Regions from separate parts of the Homo sapiens genome. Here region 1 is linked to region 2. The links come from fine-mapping of genetic effects on gene expression. A gene starts in region 2. The other region holds a variant in brackets. All regions are shown on one strand. Distances are from middle to middle.

Region 1 (9,010 bases), 92 kb after region 2:
TCCAGATACTTTAACAATAATTTAATATTCATTTTAAAATGTTGACCAGATGTGGTGGCTCACGCCTGTAATCCCAGCACTTTGGGAGGCCGAGGCTGGTGGATCACCTGAGGTCAGGGTTTCAAGACCAGCCTGACCAACGTGGTGAAACCCCATCTCTACAAATACCAAAAATTAGCTGGGCATGGTGGCAGGCACATGTAGTCCTGGCTACGGGGGCGGGGGGAGGGCTGGGGGCGGGGGGCGCGAGGCGGGTGCTGAGACAGGAGAATCACTTGAACCCGGGAGGCAGAGTTTGCGGTGAGCTGAGTTTGTGCCACTGCACTCCAGCCTGGGTGACAGAGACTCTGTCTCCAAAAAAAAAAAAAAAAAAAAAAAAATTGTTAGAGAACCTACTACATGTTAGACTCACAGCTGTTCACTGTTGCAGCCATTAGTTACATGTGGCTATTTAAAATGATATAAATATCTAAATGCTCAGTTTCTCTGTCAAGTAGCTAACTTATATTGGGTAGTGTGGATAAGAACATTTTGTTTTGATTGATTGACAGGGTCTCATTCTGTTGTCCAGGCTGGAGTGCAGATCATAGCTCACCGCAACTTTGAACTCCCTTACTCAAATGATCCTTCCACCTTAGCCTCCTGAGTACCTGGGACAACAATTGTGTACCACCATACCTGGCTATTTTTAAAATTTTATTTTTGTAGAGACAGGGTCTCACTATGTTGCACAGGCTGGTCGCCCAACTCCCAGGATCAATCGATTCTCCCACTCGGCCTCCCAAAGTGCTGGAATTACAGTTGTGAGCCACTGAGCCCGGCCATTTTCTTTAATTCTGAATGAAATAGGGGTTTAAATAGAGATGTATGCTCTGTCAGTTTTTTTTTTGTTTTATTTTGAAACGGAGTTTTGCTCTGTCTTGTGCTCACTGCAGCCTCCGCCTCCTGGGCTTAAGTGATTCTTGTGCATCAGCCTTCCAAATAGCTAGGATTACAGGCATGCACCACCGTGCCTGCCTGAGTTGTATTTTTAGTAGAGATGGGGCTTCACCACGTTGGCCAGGGTGGTCTTGAACTCCTGGCCTCAAGTGATCCCATCTACTTTGGCCTCCCAAAGTGCTGGGATTACAGGCATAAGTCACTGCAGCTGGCCTCTATTAGACTTTTTTTTTTTTCTTGAGACGGAGTCTCTTTCGTCCAGGCTGGAGTGCAGTGGGCGTGATCTCGGCTCACCGCAGCCTCTGCCCTCCGGGTTCAAGCAATTCTCCTGCCTCAGCCTCTCGAGTAGCTGGGATTACAGACGCCTGCCATTGTGCCTAGCTAATTGTTTTGTATTTTTAGTACAGATGGGGTTTCACCATCTTGGCCAGGCTGGTCTTGAACTCCTGACCTCCTGATCCACCTTCCTTGGCCTCCCAAAGTGCTGGGATTACAGGCGTGAGCCACTGCGCCCAGCCTGTAAGACTTTTTAAAAGGATTTTTCTGGCTGCAGGGTTGAAAGTAAAGTGCAGAGTACGGTGAGACCACTTTAGAAGACTTAGAATATTCCAGACAAGAGGAGATGGTGACAGAGACCAGAGTTTGATAGGTTAGATATGGGGTATAAGAAAAAGTGAGGAGTTAAGGGTGGTCTCAAGATGTTGATCTCAAGATGGTCTGGCTAGGTGCGGTGGCTCACGCCTGTAATCAGCACTTTGGTAGGCCGAGATGGACTAATCACTTGATCCTAATAGTTCGAGACTAGCCTGGGCAATATAATGAGACCCTGTCTCTACAAAAAATGCAAAGTTGGGCATGGTGGCACGTGCCTGTGTCCCAGCTACTCAGGAGGCTGAGGCAGGAGGATCGCTTGAGCTGGGGAGGACGAGACTGCAGTGAGCCGTGATAGCACTACTCAGCTCCAACTTGGGCTACAAGAGTGAAACCCTGTCTCAAAAATGTTTATTTTGAGCATATGACGAGATGTGAAAAGCTACAGGGATAATAGGCTTAAGAATGAGAATAAGGGAGTCCTGTGTTAATTTTGAGTGTAGGTATGTTTGAGGTCTATTAAATATCCAGATGAAAAGGTTACCGAAGCAGTTTGATGTACAAGTCAGGAGTTCATAGAAATTAAAACAGGAGATAGAAATTTGGACGCATACAATGTAAGGGTGGCTAGTTTAAGCCGCGCTACCAGATGTCCTTTGTAAGGACTGTAGTGTGGTTGGAAATTAGGTGCTCTCTGCTCTAGGCCACTTCCAACATTTGAAGGTCAGGAGATTAAAAGGAATCGTCTAAGGAGATGAAAGGTAGGAAAACCAAGAGTAGTGCCCTGGAAGTCAATGACGTGTTTCAAGGAGTGAGTTATTTAACTGAGTCAAATGCTGGTTCAGTAAGAGTACTGAGACTGGGTTAATAAGGTCATTGGTGACTTGACAAAGAGCGATTTCCAAGAGTGGTGAGGGTGAAGTGTGATTACGGTGCTTTGAAGAGACAGGGAGAGGAAGCGAAGGCATTCTTAGGGAGTTGCACTTTATGAAGAGCAGAGAAGTGGAGTGGAAGCTTCAAGGTTAGTTGAGAAACTTAGTAACATTATTGTCTGAGTGCCTTTATTTAGTCCTATTTTCACAGCAACCTGTGAGATAGACCTGGCAGTTAAATCATACCAATTTTATAGATGATAAACCCTAAGACATTATTAGTAAGTTAGGTGGTTCCCTGCAGTTTCTCATCAGTGCTTGCTCCTGTCTTTTCAACCAAGACGCTATGACTTTGCTTGGCAGGGTCCCAAGAAATCTAATTCTGGCTGTACCATAATAGATACACCTTTAATTGTTGCCCTTCTCAAAAATGTAGTGAAGATTAGTGTGTATGTGAATGTAATTGTTTATAGAATGCCTGTTGCATCATCTCTTTATTAAGAATAGCAAAATATTCCAAAAAACCTTAGGAAACGGCAATTAAGTCACTTGTTAAGCCGCTTTATCCATAAATATTTTAATTGCAATATAAGGAATAGCTTTTAACAATCAGATATTAAGATAATTTCTGAGTTTGATTTGCATGCCCCAGTTTCAAATCTTTAAGTGAGATACATTGCTAAGAAGAAAATACTTAGCTTTTTGTAGTTACTTTTCTGTTCGTACATGAAAATGTCTTAGGAGGAAAGAAAAAATGAGTATTATTTGGGCAAATATATCTAAGTCATTAGCCTAAATGAGTGCTTCTCAAACTTGAGCATGCATTAGCATTTCCAGAAAGGCTTGATAGTCTAGGCAAAATACTTTGACATCTACTTCAGCAAAATGGCTTGCTGAAGAAACCAAGACTGGCAGGGATATTACATTATTGGCAAAAGTTACCCAGATCTGAAGATTAGAAGCGCTTATGTAGCAAAACAATATAATGAAAAAAAATCCCAGATTTTCAGTGTGTTGCAATAAACATGTTAAAGTGCCTCAGGGCTGGGCATGGTGGCTCACCTCTGTAACCCAGCACTTTAGGACACTGAGGTGGGTGGATCCCTTGAGTTCAGGAGTTTGAGAGCAGCCTGGGGAACATAACAAAACTACCTCGCCACAGAAAATACAAAAATTAGCCAGGCATGGCGGCACGCACCTGTAGTCCCAGTTACTTGGGAGGCTGAGGTGGGAGGGTGGCTTGAGCTTGGGAGGCGGAGGTTGCAGTGAACTGAGATAATGGCACTGTACTCCTGCTTGGGTGGCAGAGTGAGACCCTGTCTTAAAAAAAAAAAAAAGTAAAATGCCTCACGTAACTCATTAGTTACAAGTGATACTGATTGCAAATGTAACTTTTCTAGTTTGTAACCAGAGGCTTGTCTCAAGATCTATACTTAGAAAATTTGCTATTCTAATTATTATTATTATTATTATTATTATTATTATTATTATTATTTTTTTTTTTTTTTGAGACAGAATCTCGCTCTCTTGCCCAGGCTAGAGTGCCGTGGCACGGTCTCGGCTCACTGTAACCTCTGCCTCCCGTGTTCAAGCGATTCTTCTGCCTCAGCCTCCTGAGTAGCTGGGATTACAGGCACGTGCCACCATGCCCGGCTAATTTTTGTATTTTTAGTAGAGATGGGGTTTCACCATGTTGGTCAGGCTGGTCTCGAACTCTTGACCTCGTGATCCGCCCGCCTCGGCCTCCCAAAGTGCTGGGATTACAGGCGTGAGCCGCCCCACCTGACTTTTTATTTTTTATTTATTTTTTTTGGAGACAGTCTCTCAGTATCTGCCCAGGCTGGAGTGCTCACTGCAACCTCTGCCTCCCAGGTTCAAGTGATTCTCATGCCTCAGCCTGTCGAGTGACTGGGATTATGGGTGTGCACCACCACGCCCTGCTAATTTTTTTTTTGTTTTTTTTGAGGGACTCTCCCTCTCACGCAGGCTGGATTGCAGTGGTGTGACCTCTGCTCACTTCAAGTGATTCTGCCTCCTCAGCCTCCC[C/G]AGTAGCTGGGATTACAGGCAGACCCCACCACACCCGACTAATTTTTTGTATTTTTAGTCGGGACAGGGTTTTGCCACGTTGGCCAGGCTGGTCTCAAACTCCTGACCTCAGGTGATCCACCCGTCTTGGCCTCCCAAGTGCTGGGATTACAGATGTGAGCCACCTCGCCTGGCTATATTCTAATTCTTAATATGAGGCTGTTTCATAATCTTTACTTAATTCACACTTGAAACATCCCTGATTTGGATAGGACTACTAGTTACTGCTAATAATTGAAGTAATCAAGATTATATGGTAAACTTGAAAGAATGTTTATTGAATGCTTACTGTATGTTAGACATCTCGCCAAGTGTTTTTTATATACAGTATTTAATCCTAAAAACAACTCTAGAAGTTAGCTATTATATAGGTGAAGTAAACTGAGGCTTAGAAGTTCACTGACATGCTTAATGTCACAGAGCTAGTGAATGGCAAAACTGGGAATTGGCTCTACATGGCCTCACTATAGAACATTTATTCTTTATACTAAGCAGTCTTTGATTAACTTGGAATTATTCTTAAAAAAGACTTTTATCTAATGGAAATTGTTGTTGTTAGGTACATAAAGAAACAATAGATGCCGTACCAAATGCAATACCTGGAAGAACAGACATAGAGTTGGAAATATATGGTATGGAAGGTATTCCAGAAAAAGACATGGATGAAAGACGACGACTTCTTGAACAGAAAACACAAGGTAAATATTGGGATAAGTTTTATTTTATTTATTTATTTTTTTTAATTTTTTTTTTTTTGAGACAGAGGCTTACTCTGTCCAGCCGAGGCTGGAGTACAGTGGTGTGATCTGGGCTCTCTGCATCTTCTGCCTCCGGGGTTTAAGTGATTGTTTGTTTGTTTTTTTCTTTTTTGAGGTGGAGTCTTGCTCTGTTGCCAGGCTGGAGTGCAGTAGCATGATCTCGGCTCATTGCACTGCAACCTCTGCTTCCCAGGTTCAAGCCATTCTCTTGACTTGGCCTCCTGAGTAGCTGGCACTACAGGCATGCACTACCACGCCCGGCTAGTTTTTGTGTTTTTAGTAGATACGGGGTTTTACCATGTTGGTCAGGCTGGTCTCGAACTCCAGACCCTAAGTGGTGATTTGCCCACTTTTGCCTCGCAAAGTGCTGGGATTACAGGCGCAAGCCACCACACCCAGCTGATTTTTGTTTGTTTTTGTTTTTGTTTTGAGATGGAGTCTCACTCTGTTGCCCAGGCTGGAGTGCAGAGGTGCGATCTCGGCTTACCACAACCTCCGCTTCCCAGGTTCAAGCAATTCTCCTGCCTCAGCCTTCGGAGTAGCTGGGATTAGAGGTGTGTGCCACCACACCTGGCTAATTTTTGTGTTTTTAGTAGAGACAGGGTTTCACCATGTTGGTCAGGCTGGTCTTGAACTCCTGACCTCGTGATCTGCCCGCCTCGGCCTCCCAAAGTGCTGGGATTACAGATGTGAGTCACCACACCTGGCCTAGTTTTTATATTTTTTAGTAGAAACGGGGTTTCACCATGTTGGTCAGGCTGGTCTCAAACTCCTGACCTCAAGCAATCTACCTGCTGAGGCCTCCCTAAGTGCTGGGATTACAGGTGTGAGCCACCATCTCTCTCCCCTTGTGATAATATTCTTTTTTCAGCCTCACTTAAGCCCAGAGTTAGTATTTTCAATTATAAATTTAATGGTAGGGTAGTTGGAGTGGCTCACACCTGTAATCCCAGCACTATGGGCAGGCAGTGCAGGAAAATTGCTTGAGCCCAGAAATTGGGAGACCAACCTAGGCAATAGAGAATGACACCCTGTCTTTACAAAAAAAAAATACAAAAATTAGCCGGGTGTGGTGGCACATGCCTATAGTCTAAGCTGAGGTGGGAGGATCTCTTGAGCCCAAGGGGTTGAGGCTTCAGTGAGCTGTGAATTCTCCAGTCTGGGCAACAGAGTGAGATCCTATTTAGATAAATCGATTGATTGATCACTTGATAGATAGATAAAATTGAATGGTAGATGATAGATTTATTTGGAATTTAAAATTTGAGCTCTGTTTTTGAAGACATACTTGATTTGTATATATGCAGTACCATTTGGATCATTCCATTTTCTTATATTATTATTCATAATTGAATTCCAAATAGAATTAGCAAGTGTTAAGGCATATGAAAATGAAGGACTCCTATAATTTCAGTGCTTTAGGTAGCTGAGGCCGTAGGATCACTTGAGGCCAAAAGTTCAAGACCTCACCTTTACCCCCCCCCCAAAAAAAAAAAAAAAAAGCCCAGTGTGGTGGCATGTGTCTGCAGTCCCAGCTACTTGGGAGACTGTGGCGGGAGGATCGCTTCAGCCCAGGAGTTTGAGAGTGCAGTGAGCTGCAGTCGTGCCACTGCTGTACAGCCTGCATCGCAGAGCAAGACTTTACTAAAAATTTAAAAGAAAAAATACTGATTTAGGATAATCATTTTACCTTTCATAGGACAGGGAAAGAACGTTAATCTTGTTTAATATAGGGCGAAAACACATTTGAAGAACATAGAGCAGTATTAATTGAATTTTTGGGGAAGAAAAATCTCATGAAGTAATTTTACCCATATATGTATTTTTAAATATTGAATGTTGTAAATAAACTTTCTTAGTTTTTACTCTATGGAAATAATTTTTTTTTTTTAACAGAAAGTCAAAAAAAGAAGCAACAAGATGATTCTGATGAATATGATGATGACGACTCTGCAGCCTCAACTTCATTTCAGCCACAGCCTGTTCAACCTCAGCAAGGTTATATTCCTCCAATGGCACAGCCAGGACTGCCACCAGTACCAGGAGCACCAGGAATGCCTCCAGGTAGCACATAGGATTGCTTAAAATCTAACATTTTTAGGACATTATTGATATTGTATCGAAGTATTACTTTCTTCCCTCTAACTCTTTAATATTTGTTATTATTTTGATTGAAATTCTTGCTTGTAGGCATACCTCCATTAATGCCAGGTGTTCCTCCTCTGATGCCAGGAATGCCACCAGTTATGCCAGGCATGCCACCTGGGTAAGAAAATTCTTTTAATTGCCCTGTAGGCTTGTGCCTAGTAATGATCTTTTTCAATTTGGATGTTATATGAATGAAATGTTACTTTCCATTTTTTGCTTCTAGAAGGTATGGGCTCTATATATCTTGTCTAATAAAGGGATCAACCAGTAAATTTAAGGAATATAAATTTGCCTCTGAGTAATAGATTTTTGGGTTTTAGGGTATATGTAAGCAACCATCTACTTCAATTGCATTTACTGTGATTAAAGTAGTTGGTTATTTATAGATTTGCGTTTCTGAGATTCAGAATTATCTGTGACACTTTGTAGTTGTGACAAGAAGCAGAGAAACTCTGTAAATGATTTATTTGTCAAAGCATCAAAACTAAAATGAATATGAGGTGCTTGTGCCCATCACTTTTACTTAAATATTGTTGGATGTGAGAGGTATACAATACACTTTCCCACTGTATTTTGAAAATCACAGTTAGATTTTGATTTTGTCATACATTTTCACAGATTGCATCATCAGAGAAAATACACCCAGTCATTTTGCGGTGAAAACATGTAAGCATCTCATTCATAATGTAATTCAGGAGGTATAATCATACTGTCATTTTTTTATGTGTGTGTTTAATGGTATCTATTCAGTTGACTTCAGAAATTTTCTAACCTTCCTCACTAAAACTTGCAAGCTAATTAACACAGGTCTCTTAAAGAAGGAAAATAAAACATCTTTTAGGAAACGGTAATAGACCCATATAAACATACTTCAAATGTGCAGTGATTTTCTCCAAACTATTGAAAGTAATGGGACCTGTTAATAAGGGTTAGTATTTAAGAAAGACTATATTCTATGAAATTACATGCTTTATTATTATAGGATGTAATGGAATTTTCTAATCTATTAATAGAAGTTAATCTTCTGATAAAAATTTTAAATCAAGAACTGAATTTACCCACAAAAATTTAAAAAATTTGAAAGAAAATTGACCAATTTATCATTTTTTAAGTGAATTGGACACTGATATTTGAAGGTGAGCTCTTTTAGGGGAAAAAATAAGTGGGTTGTGTTTTTAAGTCATGGTTTAGTGGTAGGTAGTTATTGTAAATAGGCCATCTGGTTTTACTTTTGAGTGTCTTTAATTTTGGTGGTAGTATTTCCTTTCTCTAAAAAAAAAAAGTGTGTGTGTGTGTGTGTGTGTGTGTATATGTATGTATTTGACACAGGGTCTCTTACTCTGTCGCCCAGACTACAGTGCAGTGGCGCAGTCACAGCTTACTGCAGCCTTGACCTCCTGGGCTCAAGTGATCCTCCCACCTCAGCCCTCTGAGTATCTGGGACTACAGGCGCACACTACTGCACCCAGCTAATGTTTAAAATTTTTGCTTTTTTAAAAAGTTATGGTCTCACTTTTTGCCCAGCCTGGTTTGAACTCCTGAGTTCAAGCAGTCCTTGAGCCTTGGCCTCTCAAAACTTCTGGGATTATAGGCATGAGCTGCTGCACCTAGCCAAAT
Region 2 (9,010 bases):
GAGGGAGATGTCAGAATGAACCCCAAGTGAAAGAGGTTCTGGAGAAAAAGTCATCCCTGTTTGCCCCCCTTCTGGGCATTGCCATTGCTTTGAGCAATAATTACAGCCCTTCATGTTTCTTCCCTGGCTTCTCATTAGCTCAAGGTGTCCACAAACAAACTGCTCAGCCCCCTTTGCCTTCCTCTCCCCGCTTCCAGCAGCTACTCCTGGCTTTTCCATGGCAGCCAACTGTCCCAGTTCCCAGGACCAGAACATCGGGTCCTTAAAAAAACTCCTTCCTCTCTTGGAGGGCACATTTGAGAGACTCAGCCCTGGAAAGGCTCTTCTCTCTCTCCTCCCCCTTATCCCACTGGACTGTCATTAGAGGATGACCTCATTTTCCCCCAGGAGGCCAGGGCCCGGGTCTCATCCCCTTTGTACTATCAGTACCTCGGCCAGGGTCTGGCACATAATGGACACTCAGCACGTGTGAGCTGAATGGCACTGCTGAGCTGTCGCCAACTTAATCTTCCTAAAATGCTGCTCCAGTTAGAAGCCATCACCGCTTCTCTATCTCCCACTGGGCGAGGTCCAACCTCCTCAGACTGGCACTCGGGGACTCTGGCGACACAGTGCTCCTCGCCTGCCCGGCCATCCTCACTTTGTGCTCAGCCACTTCATGGTTCCCAACACAGTCAACAGCTTTCCTATCTCTGTGTCTTTGCCGCAGCAGTTCCCTCCACCTAGAAACCCTTCCACGTTCTCTACCACAAGCTTGCCCCTTTCAAGGCTCATCTCAACATCATGCTCCTGCCCTTCTAAACCGAGTTTGATCCACCCTTCCCCAGCCCTTCATCCTGCTCTGCGTTGACTTCAAGTGTCTTGTTAGGAACCTTAAAAGAGGCCATGGTGTAGCGCACTTGCAAAATGAAGAGCAAGGAAGAAGTGCCAATAGGCCCAGTTCCGTGTCACTTCTCATTAGCGCCAAAGGTTCTCCCAGGGAGGGGCCTCTGCATGGCACACCTCCAGGCATCGACGAGTGCCTGCCTGCTGCAGCTGGTCAGTGAAAGTGACACCATGCCTACTCCCTCCTCTGCCCCCAAAATGCCACAGAATATGCCAGTCCTTAGGCTGTCTCAGGTGAGAGTAGAACAAAAGGTGTCAGGGTGCCTAGCCACTCCTATCCCCTGGAGCTTTCTAGGCCTGGACCCCAGGCCCCATGTCCTACTGCCTGCTCGGGAGTGGGTTGCAGATTCGCCTGGAGCTGAGGGGCAGAGTGGTCTGACCAGCTGGGCGTAGGTGACATTGAGGACAACAGGTAAAGGGTGGCCTCAGGCTCATGGAGGATGATGGATGTAACAACTTGTCCTAACAGTCTCCAAGTCCAGACACCATCACCTCCCAGCAAGGGCCAAGGTGAGAGAAGCTGCCCCGTGAAGCAAGAATCCTGGTGAGAGATCAGGAATTCCTTCTTAGGAGACTTTTGGAAACATAGCCTGCCAAGGCGGGGTAAATGTTCCTAGGGACAGAAGGAGGAACAAGATAGCCTTCTGGATGTTTCCCATCTTCCCTCTCCCTTTTATTCTAACTGCTGCCGCCCTTGTGACCTCTTCCTTGGACAGCACCTCTCATGGCCCTCTGCTCAGGCCAACCTCCCTCCTGTCTAGACTCTACACTACAGCCAAAGGGATCTTTTTTGTTTGTTTTGAGACGGAGTCTCACTCTGTCGCCCAGGCTGGAGTGCAGTGGCAGATCTCGGCTCACTGCAAGCTCCGCTTCCTGTGGTCAAGTGATTCTCCTGCCTTAGCCTCCCGAGTAGCTGGGATTACAGGCGCCCACCACCACGCCCGGCTAATTTTTTGTATTTTTTTAGTAGAGACAGGGTTTCAACGTGTTAGCCAGGACGGTCTCGATCTCCTGACCTCGTGATCCGCCCGCCTTGGTCTCCCAAAGTGCTGGGATTACAGCCGTGAGCCACCGCGCCTGGCCAGGGATCTTTTAAATATTACTCTACTGCTCACAATCCTTCAATGGCTCCCTATTGCCCTTAGGTAAAGTCCAAGCTCTTTTCCCATGAAACTCACAGCCCCTCACAACCTTCCCGTCCAGGCTGGGCTCTTTAGATTGGTCATCGTGCTCCAGTTTCCAGCCATGCCAAACTGCTTGTCGTTTGCCTCCCATATGATGCTGCTCCACAAGCCTGGTCGTGCTGTTCCCTCTACCTGGAACACCTCCTTCACCTTTTCCATGTTGCCTAGTTCTGGAGGCTTATCCTTTGGGAAGCCTTCCTGGACCCACAGCGACCCCCTCCTTTGGAGTTCTACACCTTCTGGGCTTCCCTTGAATCCAGGACTTACCCTTGTGTTGAATGTGACTGTCACCCCCAATTATCCATTTCTGGAGGGCAGGGTCTGGTTCTTATCCACCTCTGTATTCTCAAAGCTCTGTCATTGGTACTTAGTAGGAGCTTAATACATGTTCAGGAACAGAACTGAGCCTGCTAAGCTCCCTTCCCCACGAAGGGATGACAGAGTTGGATATGTTGATAAGAGCTGTCCCTGGGCTGATGAAGAGGCAGCTCCCTGGGTAGCTGGTATCAGAACACTGTCCAGGGTGGCTGGGCATCCCAGCAGAGTGGCCAACCCTTTTCTGTGCCCTTCTCCTTCCAGTTCCCCTGGAACCAGACTTCCTGGCCCACTTCTCTAGTCCCAGAGATCTAAGTATAACAGAGCCAACACCCATACCGGTCATGCAAATGACAGCCTGGGATGCGGGAGGCAGCGACACAGACCCCAGGGCCCCAGCGGTCATTTGTCCTTCTGGGCTCCTCTTCACAAAGGAATCAGCCTCTCTTCTGTCCCCTGAAGGCTGTTTTCAAAATCACACCCCATGCAGACAGTTTTATTTACAAGGAAATCTTGGCAGGATCTTGACTTGTTAGTAGAGTAGGGATGGGGAGGAGGGTGGTGAGAAACAAAAATAGTTGAAATGATCACACTTTCTGAAACAGAGATGAAAATTGGTGTCTGTAGCAAACTCACCTAATTAGAATCAAGTGAATTCCCTTCTCGGTGTTTAAGGGGAGCAGTCATTGCTGGGTGATGGTCGCAGTTCGGATCCTGGGCACGGGGTTATGTCTTTGCTTTCTGAAGATGACTGCATTAGTTGCAGCTCTCACTAATGGAAAGGAGCCTGTTCCGTTTCCCAGAGGAAGGAAGAGGGCAAAGACTAGTGAGTGAGTGGGTGGTGGGAAGAGGAAAGCAAGAGGAGTGGAAGGGCACAGCCTTGGTGTGGGCTGGGGACTGACTGCGAGATGCCTCCTGGAGAAGCTCCTGAGCCTCTGGGGAGAGCTGGCCCCTGCCAGGCCGGCCACTAGCACCATTTACAGCCAGAGCCTCTGCTTCGGGAGATGGTCTCTCTTGGGGGCGCTTTCCTGCAGGGAAACAGCATCGATTGTTTTCTTTAAAAGATCCCCTACTCCGTTTTGGCTAACTTCCTTTCTGATTGCTTTAGTTTCTTTACCGTCCCTCTCCCCAGATGGGGCATTTCCCTGGGCTTACCTTTGTCCATGTGGTCAAATGAAGCCTGGGCATGGTCACTTAGCTCTGGGTGTAGGAAGGGCAAGATTTAGGCTTTGGGGCCCACGACCCCGCAATCTGACTTCTCCCATTTCTGGGCCTCCCGAGACCTCCCAGAATCTGAGACCGCAGTGAATAGGGCGTAAGGATAATGGGGCGGGAGGCAGGAATCCCGTCCTTACAACATCGCGCCCCCAATTCACTCCTAGTTAACCCTGACGTCGCCAACATAGTGTCTCCATCACATATCTGCCACCTCCAAGTGATGGTTAAGCCGATGGAAGAGCCAAGCCCGGGCCCGGAGTGCAGGCCGGTGGTGACCGGGCCGGGGACGGCGCAGTCCCCATCCCCGCCCCGGGCAGCGCCACCACTTCCTCGCCAGCCCCGCCGCAGCCCTCCCGCTCCCGGGCCGCGCCGCTCTGACCGACTGGGCCCGGGTGGCGGCGCCCGGGGTGGGGTGCGGGGCGGGGGCCGGCGTTCCCCGCGAGCAGCCCCGCCCCCGCCCGCGCGCCGCCCCCGAGGACTCCGCGGGGAGGAGGAGACTCGGGCGCAGAGCGGGGGCCGCGAGAAGCGGGAAGGGAGCGCGGGGAGCGGCGGGGCCGGGGCCGGCCCAAGGGCGCCCTCGCCTCGGAGCCGGGCGCGAGGGCCGGGGCGGAGGCGGAGGCCGGCGGGGCAGCTAGCGCAGTGAAGTTTGGCGGCGGAGGGGCCGGGCGTCCCGGGGTCGCGAGGAGGCGGCGGCGGCGCGGGGACCGGGGCCATGGGGGCGGGCGCGGGCTGCGGAGCGGGCGCGGAGGCGGCGCGGCGCGCACTGAGCCCCTGGAGCGGCGCGGCCGCCGCGGCGCAAAGTTAGCCCGGCGCCCCGGGACGAGCCCCGCAGCCGCCGCCGCCCCCGGACCCCGTCTCGGCCATGGGCGAGCACCCCAGCCCGGGCCCCGCGGTGGCCGCCTGCGCCGAGGCGGAGCGCATCGAGGAGCTGGAACCCGAGGCCGAGGAGCGGCTGCCCGCGGCGCCGGAGGACGTGAGTGCCCCCTCCCCGCCCGGCAAACTTTCTAGGGGGCGCCGGGGGGAAAAGCCGCCCCTGTCTCGCCCCACGCCGGGCAACTTGGAGGTTTCAGGGTGACGCGGGAGCGCCCCGGATTGGCCGGGTCCCCGCGGGCAGGAGGGGGCGGAGGGACCGGTCTCCCCGAAACGCGCGCGCACCGCTTCCCCCGCTCTGGTTCCCGCGGCTTCCCTGCGGGACACAGCACCGCCACTGCGCCGCGGACCTGTCACCGCCGGAGCCCCCTCCCCGCCGCTGGTGCAGTGCCCGGGACACGGCGTTTTCCCGCAGAGGCGGCCGCGTCACGGCGGTGACTCCCCCTCCCCTCACGCCCGCGACCTGCGAGCTCCCGGAGCTGGGGAAGGAGCGGACGCCGCAGAGTCCCCGTCCCTGGCCATGCAAGCCGGCCTGGCGACCCCTTCCTCCGCTCCCGGATTAGCTCCCGCCCGGCACCTGCCTTGCCGCGACACTGATTGAAATTCAAGCCGGCCCCCGCCTCTGACCCCGGCCGGAGCAGGGAGGCAAAGAGTGCTGGGAGCGGCTTTGCTCCTAGAAGGAGGCCCGGGAGTCCAAGACCGTGGCGGTGCCAGGGGACGGTCCCCTGGGCGAGGAGAGGGAGGGGCTGCCCCGAGGGCTTCCCCGCCGTCTGCTGCTCGGGTCTCCATCCCTCCGGTCCTGCGGGCCGGCCCTGCGAAGCCCTGGGAACTGGAGTTTCTTGGGTTAACCTCCCGGGGCTAACCTACACATAGGGGTGAAAAACCGGGCAGACACCCTGCCCTGCCCACTCCTCCCTCAGGGTGGGGAGATGGAAGTGAAACCAGGCCCCCAACCCACACAACGAAAGCGGGAAAGTCTGAATGGGGTTGGGGGGTAGTTTACGATCTTCTCTCTTTGGCGTCTGCGGTTAAATCTATCACTTCCTTCTGGCCCTAAACCCCTGGCAGAATCTGATGTAGTCACCACTTAGACTCAGCCTTGGAAGAGAATGGGTGGGCTTCACCGCATTCGGCATTCACCACCCCCCCTTCCCCGCAAAAAAACAAAAAACGAACAAACAAACAAAAAACTGCAGGCAAAATGTTAGTGTTTATGCAGAGGTGAGTTCTCCTGGGGGGGGAGGGGGGGGCTCTAGCTCCCAGCAGGTGAGACTCATTGCGCCGGGGTCTGATGGAATTGCACCTGGCCATGCTCTCCCAGGCCTGGGAGTAGCTGTGGACATAAGCTTTAGGCAGCAGAAATTATTAGAGGCGCTTGGACATATTTGGACGCCTTTATTTAGTAATTGTTGAGAATCACTTGTTCTGCCAGTTCCAGAACCAGCAACACCCACCTTGCCGCCCCCGCCCCCACCCCATCCCTTACTGTGAGTTTCCTCCCTCTGCTCAGTGTGGACTCATTGGGGAGCTCCTCCCAGACTTCCCCTGCTCTCCTGTGGCCAGTCCCTGAGCCTGGTCATGACTCCTGGGCAGCCGCTGGGAGGCTATGTCAGAAACATCCGAGGACTACAGAGACCTTGGTGATAAGTGTGTCTTTCTTTCTCTCCTCTTCTTCCTCTCCTGCATGGCCTCCCTCTCTGCCAGCACTGGAAAGTCCTGTTTGATCAGGTATGTGAGCAGTTAACCCCCCATTTCCTTCCAGCCCTCCCTGAAATCGGTCTCAGTCTCCCTGCTTGCGTGGGCTTCCCTAGCTCCGCGCTCCTGAGATGGTGACGTGGGGTGGGGGTGTGGCTTTGTGCATCTCTAGGGCTGAACGACACTGCTCTCCAGGTATCAGGAGGAAGAGATGGGCTCCCCTGAGAGGATCTCCCTCCTGCCTCCTCCCTACTCTGCTGCACCAGAGCCGGGTTTACACCATGTAGAAATTGGACGTTATATATTGAATGCCTGGGAAATCCTCCATATGCCAGGGGATTGCAGTAGGGGGCTGGAGAGGTGGGGGAAGGGCTTGGGCTGACAATCCCTCTCCGTTTCTACCTCCACTATGGAGGGTCCATGGCCACCGCTGAAGTCAAATCTCTGCCATCCTTGGGGGCTGACTCACAGTATGGACTCTTTTGAAGTCTAATTCAATGTCTTTAATTCTGTCATAGGGATGAGGGAGTGCTGGGAGGTTACAGAGGGGAAATTGTGTGTGATTCTTCGCAATGCCTGGAGTCCAGGTGTAGGGCATGGAGTTGGGGGTGCCAAGTATTGGCTTTTGAACCTGGAGATGGACATTTGACCTTCAGCAAGGAAATGGTTCTCCTCTTAGCATTCGTGGTGGGTGCTGTTATGTGCTTCCTTCTCCCTCTTTGCCCCATGTTGGAGGATAGTTGAGTGCTATAGTCCTGGGGTGAGAATGATTGTGCCATGAAGTTTGTGCAACTTTAAGAAATTGGTGTGAGTGGGCCAGAGGGAATGTGTTGGGTAGGAGAAGGAGATAAAGCTGAAAAATTAGCTTGAACCAGGACTTCGTTGTAGGCAGGGGAAGCCTTAGAAAGTTTTTTAGCAGGGTTGTTATGTGATCCAAGCCAGGCTTGGGAAAGCTCCAGTGTCTTAGGGGATAAGGAGTGAATGGGCTACGGGGATGAGGGAAGCTAGGCAGGAGCTGCAGCACTGAACAGAGGCAAGAAGGTGACAGTGAGGATGGACGGGAAGAGGGACATGGTGATGGAAGAATTGGAAGATCTTAATAGACCGTAGGTGAGGGGAACCACATATCTAACTTTGAGATTCTGAACCTAGGAGGGAAAGAAGTTGGAGTGGGGCCAGGTGTGGTGACTCACGCTTGTAATCCCAACACTTTGGGAGGCTAAGGCGGGAGGATCACTTGAACCCAGTAGTTCAAGACCAGCCTCGCCAACAAAGTGAGACCTCATCTCTACAAAAAATTAAAAAATCAGCCAGGCATGGTAGCACACTCCTGTGGTTCCAGCTACATGAGAGACTGAGGCAGGAGGATTGCCTGAGCCCAGGAAGTTGAGGCTGCAGTGAGCCACGATCGTGCTACTGCACTCCAACCTGAGTGACAGAGTGGGACCCTGTCTCAAAACAAAAACAAAAAACAAGTTGGAGTGAGGAGAGACGTTTGGCAAAAATGACAACTTTGGTTTGAGACAAGTTCAGTTAGAGGAGCCAGCCGGTTGCAGATGCCGGAGTGGGCGTGATGACACGGAATTGCAGCGCGAAAGGCCTGGGGTGAGGATTTGGGGTGATCATCCACATTAACCACGAGGTCTGGCTGTGGTTTGAAGTTCAAAGCATGCACTGGCTCCTGTCCTGACGGGTAGAGCATCTCTCCCTCTGGCTCCTAAGAGTACAGCAGCTGCTGGCCTGATGCCCCAAGGCAGGAGGGAGCCCGCTGCGCCACTGCCACCACTACCACCAAGCTGCCAGCCCTTCACACCTCCTGCCAGATTTAGAATCAGAACCTAGAACAAAGTGTATCATTCTTTTTTTTTCTCTGTCTGTGTCTATCTTTTTCATTTGATTAATTTCCTTTGCCAGTCCCTGTGTGTATGTGTACATTTTAAAACAAACCATTTGGGTGAAAGGAAGAGAGCTTTTAGTAGGAAGATTTTGGAACTCAAGGGAGCAGAAAGAATGTGTAGCACCTAATAGTAGCTAGTGGTCTATTAAATCGAATTTTTCCAACTGAAGGTAGGTCCTGGGTCCTGGGTGTCACAAAGAGCATACCCCTGCTTCTGGGAGGCCTGCCCAGAATTAATTCTAGGAAAGAAATTAGGCCAGGCACAGTGGCTAACGCCGGTAATCCCAGCATTTTGGGAGGCTGAGACAGGAGGATGGCCTCCCAAAAAGTGAGACCCTTTCTCAAAAAAAAAAAAAAAAAAAAAAAAAGAAGCAAGCAACCCTGATAGATCAAACTGCAGTCATGGATGGGACATGACACCTCTCAGAGTCCCTGTAAGCACAAGTGACTCTGGAGTTCGCCTTCCAGAGATCAATGGCATGGGTGGCTAGAACCAGTCAAGTATCTCCTCCCTCCCTTCTTGGGTCAAGCAGACACCAGTGGTAGCCCAATTTCAAACTGGGATCTGCTAGGGTCTGTTTTCCAGGTGTTAGGGATGGATTAGACCAGTCCCTCCATAATGTCTGGTTCTTCAGCATGTGGAGTAGCCTTGATCTAGCATGACGCCAACTGGACCCCAAGGGCTAGAAGCCATGGTGTTGGTCTTGTTGGTCCTATATGGTCACCGTCGAACTAAATGGCCAGGATACCTTTTGTGGGGACTGGAGGTGATGAAAGCAGGTGACCCCAGTCCCATGGAAGCTTCTGCATCCCCCTCCCTGGCATTGTGGCATCTGGCCCACTCAAGCAGGAGTGTTAGCAGGGCCAATCCATGCCACGCACCCTCACTCCCCCGATTCTTCCCCATGGGTCCCAGAAGTTGCAGCAGGTGGGAGACCTGAGGGTC

Which allele goes with the higher level. Positions count from the first base shown, and alleles are read on the strand shown. Sizes are in standard deviations (SD) of each study's normalised expression.
In carriers of allele C in region 1, the expression in amygdala of the gene that starts at base 4,107 in region 2 tends to be higher than with G alone (moderate effect, 0.43 SD a copy in GTEx).

Evidence for each region. PIP is the estimated chance that this variant, and not a neighbour inherited with it, causes the effect.
Region 1: its variant is the best candidate, but not a certain one, in a credible set for the expression of RHBDL3 in amygdala (GTEx, PIP 0.69).

What each region holds. Positions count from the first base shown.
Region 1 is chr17:32,353,457-32,362,466 of GRCh38, forward strand. ZNF207 (zinc finger protein 207) reads left to right here. Exons shown (of 12, transcript NM_001098507.2): 3 at 5,047-5,185; 4 at 7,142-7,309; 5 at 7,436-7,511; 6 at 8,012-8,059. Among named protein-coding and RNA genes, the nearest start is that of ZNF207, 7.8 kb to the left of the region's middle. RefSeq lists an enhancer at 784-1,285 and a silencer at 4,221-4,421. The variant C/G (reference allele first, on the strand shown) is at 4,449.
Region 2 is chr17:32,261,726-32,270,735 of GRCh38, forward strand. RHBDL3 (rhomboid like 3) reads left to right here and starts at 4,107. Exons shown (of 9, transcript NM_138328.3): 1 at 4,107-4,575; 2 at 6,177-6,200. The coding sequence starts at 4,465. LOC105371731 (a long non-coding RNA gene) reads right to left here and starts at 3,726. Exons shown (of 3, transcript XR_934665.2): 1 at 3,540-3,726; 2 at 3,021-3,171.